2 separate regions of the Homo sapiens genome follow, and region 1 is linked to region 2. Evidence: fine-mapped expression QTL. A gene starts in region 2. The other region holds a variant in brackets. All regions are shown on one strand. Distances are from middle to middle. Region 1 overlaps TTLL6 (tubulin tyrosine ligase like 6). Region 2 holds the start of ATP5MC1 (ATP synthase membrane subunit c locus 1).

The links.
Region 1: its variant is fine-mapped to the expression of ATP5MC1 in prefrontal cortex (GTEx, PIP 0.98).

The regions. Positions count from the first base shown.
Region 1 is chr17:48,795,198-48,797,697 of GRCh38, reverse strand. TTLL6 (tubulin tyrosine ligase like 6) reads left to right here. Exons shown (of 16, transcript NM_001130918.3): 7 at 494-637; 8 at 1,552-1,637. Among named protein-coding and RNA genes, the nearest start is that of TTLL6, 21 kb to the left of the region's middle. The variant G/T (reference allele first, on the strand shown) is at 1,505.
Region 2 is chr17:48,891,706-48,894,205 of GRCh38, reverse strand. It overlaps ATP5MC1 (ATP synthase membrane subunit c locus 1), which reads right to left and starts at 1,419. Exons shown (of 5, transcript NM_005175.3): 1 at 1,296-1,419; 2 at 750-797. The coding sequence starts at 788. LOC105371814 (a long non-coding RNA gene) reads left to right here. Exons shown (of 4, transcript NR_135674.1): 2 at 1,529-1,959. RefSeq lists enhancers at 617-666, 707-816, 1,397-1,516, 1,527-1,986, 1,624-2,500.

The sequences.
Region 1 (2,500 bases), 97 kb after region 2:
CTCCTGCCTCAGCCTCCTGAGTAGCTGGGATTACAGGGGCCCACCACCGCGCCTGGCAAATTTTTGTATTTTTAGTACAGACGGGGTTTTGCCATGTTGGCCAGGCTGGTCTCGAACTCCTGACCTCAGATCATCCATCCGCCTCAGACTCCCAAAGTGCTAGAGTTACAGGCATGAGCCACCACGCCTGGCTTCAGAGGACTTTTTAATGTTACTTTGTTTAGTTGCCAAGGTGCCTCTTAGAGGTGGTTACTTGTGTCACTTGACAGATCAGGAAACCAAGGCACAGTGTGGTTTAGTGACCTCCACAGGGTCACATGTTGGGACACAGAGCCCAAGTCTCCTTGTTCCTCTCTCTGACCCTGGACAAGCCTGCCCTCCACAACACTAGGCAATGTTGGAGCCAACTCCATGGAAACAAGGCGGGAGCTAGTGATTTTCAAGTGTAAATTTCTCCTCTAATGCATGTCTGACTTCTGTTCTCTCCTTCCAGCCCTTTATCATTGATGGGTTTAAGTTTGACCTACGGATTTATGTACTGGTGACATCCTGTGACCCTCTCAGGATTTTTGTGTACAATGAAGGACTGGCCCGCTTTGCGACGACCTCTTACTCCCGCCCTTGCACAGACAACCTGGTGAGCTAAGGAGACACACTACCTCACCCTACCCCCATAGCGTGATTAAAAAAAAAAAAATTCTAGTTAAATCCACATCCTCAAGACATTGTGAGTGTCATTTGTTGAGCACTTGCTATGTGCCGGGTTTCATTTAGCGCTGCCAGGATCCCTCAGAGAGAGGGATTATTATCCCCATTTTACAGATGACGAGATTAAAACCCAGAGCATAAGGGACTTGTCCAAGGTCACACAGCTAGGAAGAGGTGAGTCTGGGGCTTGTGGCCAGGTCTGCCTGACTCCAAAGCCAGAACCACAGTTCAGGGGTAATCAAGGAGAAAAGGCCGTGGATGAGCAACCCTGCCATCCCCACCTTTCCTGGACCCCCAGGACTCCTGAAGTTTTTCTCAGGCTGGGCACCACCCAATCTCAGAAAGAACTGGAGTTTCTTTTTTTTTTTTTTGAGATGGAGTCTCGCTTTGTCGCCTAGGCTGGAGTGCAGTGGCATGATCTCGGCTCATTGCAACCTCTGCCTCCTGGGTTCAAGCGAGTCTCTTACCTTAGCCTCCTAAGTAGCTGGGATTACAGGTGTGCACCACATCCCCGGCTAATTTTTGTATTTTCAGTAGAGATGGGATTTCACCATGTTGGTCAGGCTGGTCTTGAACTCCTGACCTCGTGATCTGCCTGCCTCAGCCTCCCAGAGTGCTGGGATTACAGGCATGAGCCACCACGCCCAGCAGAATTGGAGTTTCTTAGGCTCGAGGCTGCAGGACACCCCTTCTTACTTCCTGTATTTTGCCACACTAAATAAGCCCTAAAACTTCCCTTTCTTTCCATCCCTTCAAGCCCCAGGGGCCATGGGAGGGCACAGAGAGGAAGCAGGGG[G/T]CCTGCCCTTCCGAGCTGACCCGACAGATGTGTGTCTTTTTCCCCAGGATGATATCTGCATGCACCTGACTAATTATTCCATTAATAAGCACAGTTCAAATTTCAGTCGAGATGCACACTCTGGCAGTAAGAGGTAAGGAAGAGGCTTCATTTTTCTTTCCTTTCCCTACCAACCTCAGAACTGCTTTCTGGGATTCTACCCAAACCCTGTTAGTCCCCATCAGTGTTTCCATCTTGGGTCACATGGTCTGAGAATATACTCCTTTGCCTCGCAACCCAGAACAAATTCCTTCATCTCTGCCCTCTTGGCTGTTAATCATTAAAAGAAGGCCCCATCGTAAACCCTGGGAGGCTGGGAGGAGGAGAGATAAACATGAGCTGTTTCCCCAGCAGAATATATACACACACCAAAACATACCCTTATTACAGTTGGCCCTTCTGATATTTCCAAATCAACAGATATTTATTGATCGCTAGTCTGCCACGTGAGAAGGACTTGCCAGGCAGTCATTGCTTGGCCCATGTTCCCCTGGACGTTGCTCCATTAGAGATTCTCAAATGATGTGTCACAGTGCCCTGACATGTGGCTAGCCGGCTTGAAGATTCCTCAGAAGGGGGGAAATTGAGAGCAGTTCATGAGAGTATCTTCACGAGAGGCTTTTCCATTCCTGTTATTGTCTAATCGGGTCTCATTTGAGTTTTAAGAAAACGGGGGACTGAAGAATGTGAACTTGACCAGGTGAAGGAGGAAAGGGAAAAGGAGCAAGTATTTCTGAGGCTTCATGTGTGTTGGGGTCTGTGCTTGGTGCTTTCTGTGCATTTTTTATTGCTGAATTTTTCTTTTCTTTTCTTTTTTTTTTTTTTCTTTTGAGACTGAGTCTTGCTCTGTCGCCAGGCTGGAGTGCAGTGGTGCGATCTTGGCTCACTGCAACCTCTGCCTCCCGGGTTAAAGCAATTCTCCTGCCTCAGCCTCCCAAGTAGCTGAGACTATAGGCA
Region 2 (2,500 bases):
TCTCAATAGCTTGATATAGTCAGCAGTGGCAACCTTCACCATTCAAAACCAAACCAAAGTTCACTTCTTTGGGCACAGCTTTAATCAGCTTCTCAGAATGGAACAAGAACCCACACTAATACCAAAGCAGGTACAGGAAAGGTTTATACCCAGATCACCAAGTAATCAGATGGGGGAAATTTTATTCTGCTAAAATACACTCACAGCTACACACCCTAAATGGAGTGGGCCAGTCAGCCCCGGAAACCGACTGGAATAGCCATCCAAGGAGAGCCATCTGTAACATGGCTTTTTTGAAATAATTTTTAGTGCAGTGGTTCTCAAACTTGGCTGCACGGTGGAATCATCTGGAGAAGTCTTAAAAGATACAGATGCCTGGGTTCCACCCCCATTCCCAAAGTCTGATGCAAATGGTCTAAGGTGCAGCCTAGGCATCAGGATTTTAAAAAGTTCCCTGGATGATTCTAACGTGCAGCCACTGTTGAAAACCACTGTTTTAGTGGGCTGTCTCTATGGCCAGGACAGACTGGGGATAAAAATCAAATCCAGACTCTCTGACCACATTCCAAAGCCAAGATAGCTTGGTTCACAGGCCCAGATAAACAGGGGTTACCTTCATCACATCCTACAGCCACCTCAAAGAGCCTACATCATCAGGACGCCAAGCTCCCCTGGGTTCATTCATTAAACACTGATGGCGTCCACACCATACACCTGGTACTACAGAGCACTGCGGCGCGGCACCTTACCAGAGCTGGAGAAATGAATAATGCCCCGGCGGTCTGCATTTTTTCAGTCTGCAGAGGGGGAAAAAATAGTAATAATAATCCCACTGAGACCCTGGTTGTTTGCTTATAATGACGACCTTTGGTCGTCCCCTTCACCCCCGTCCGTCCTCCCTAGACCACGCTCTTCCTTGCACCGTGCCCCAGCTGAGGAGGGCATTAGAGGTCAGAGGGACAGAGCAGTGGGTCTTCAAAGCAAAGTCATGGAGATCGGAAGTCAAGGAAATGTGCCCAAGCCCCAGGAAGGAAATGTTGCGAAAGGGAATGGTCTCTCGGGAAGACTGGAGGCGGATACTGGGCAGGTGTCGCGCAGGATCCTGCCCATCTTACACAGCAGTCCCCGACCCGCCCCAGCCGAGGCAGTCAATCGTTCATTACCGTTGGTAATTAACATTCATTGATAAGGCCATATCTAGATTGCCATAGCCTCTCCCAGCACTGGGGGGAAATACCCCTCCACACTGCCCAGCCCACAACCCTGCCTATTGCTGGCTCCCGGCCCCAAGTCACCTGCACTCCTACTACCCTGCAACCCCTGCTTGGCCCACAGCGCTCGCCCGGCTCAAGGTGACAGACTCACCTCCCAGCTTTAGCCCTTGGTCTCAGCGCTCAGCTTCCCCCACCCACGTGTCCTGGACCTTCTCCATTCTCATTGGCCGTAATATCCCCGCGTCCCCATTGGTTGACGTCATCGATTCCCCACTCTTATTGGCTTTCCGCAGCTGCTTCCTCTCCCTCCACAGGAGCTTCGTGGCAATTCCCGCCTCCATGCGGATAGAGGCGGGGCTTTCCTACGAGATCTGGATTACGATTGGCCGATCCCTGAAACGCTCGACCATAGAGTTGGCGGGACTCAGAGGTTCCATAACCTCGCGCACAAGATGGCGACCAAGGTGTACGCTGAAGAAAAAGGCGTGGGAGAGATGACGGGACGTGTGACGCAGTCAGACACATGACTTTGGCCCCGAGCCTTCATTCGGGCGCTTGGGCCACGGGGCGCGTTGCATGTTGGGATTGGTAGTTGCGCTGAGGGGGGGGGCCCAAGGACAGCTGAGATCCCGCGAGATATTCTAGGCCGGGAGAGCCGATGCCTTTGCAGTAATTCCCACCGTGGAGGTTTGTGGAAAGACCGCTTTCCATGGAGAGTAAAGGCCGGCTGGAAAGTCCCCAAGCGGTGAGCGCAGTTTTGTGGACCTCAGCCGGTGTTCAGCAGTCATGGACTATCATCCAGATGGCTTTCTAAAACATTTGTTGGGCCGGGTGCAGTGGCTCACGCCTGTAATCCCAGCACTTTGGGAGGCCGAGGCGGGCGGATCACCTGAGGTCAGGAGTTCGAGATCAGCCTGACCAGCATGGTGAAACCCCGTCTCTACTAAGAATACAAAAATTAGCCGGGCATGGTGGTGGCGCGTGCCTGTAATCCCAGCTACTTGGGAGGCTGAGGCAGGAGAATCGCTTGAACCCGGGAGGCCGAGGTTGCAGGGAGCCGAGATCGCGCCACTGCACTCCAGCCTGGGCAACTGAGCAGGATTCCGTCTCGGGGGAAAAAACAAACAAAAAAATTGTTTATTTTGTAAAAACAACACTGAAAGAATGAAATAATATCCCTATAGAAAAACGAGCAAAGGATAGGAACAGGCAATTCAGTAAGGAAGAAATATGAATTGCAGGAACGAATGTCAGCCTTCCTAATCAAAGAAATATAAGTTTAAACG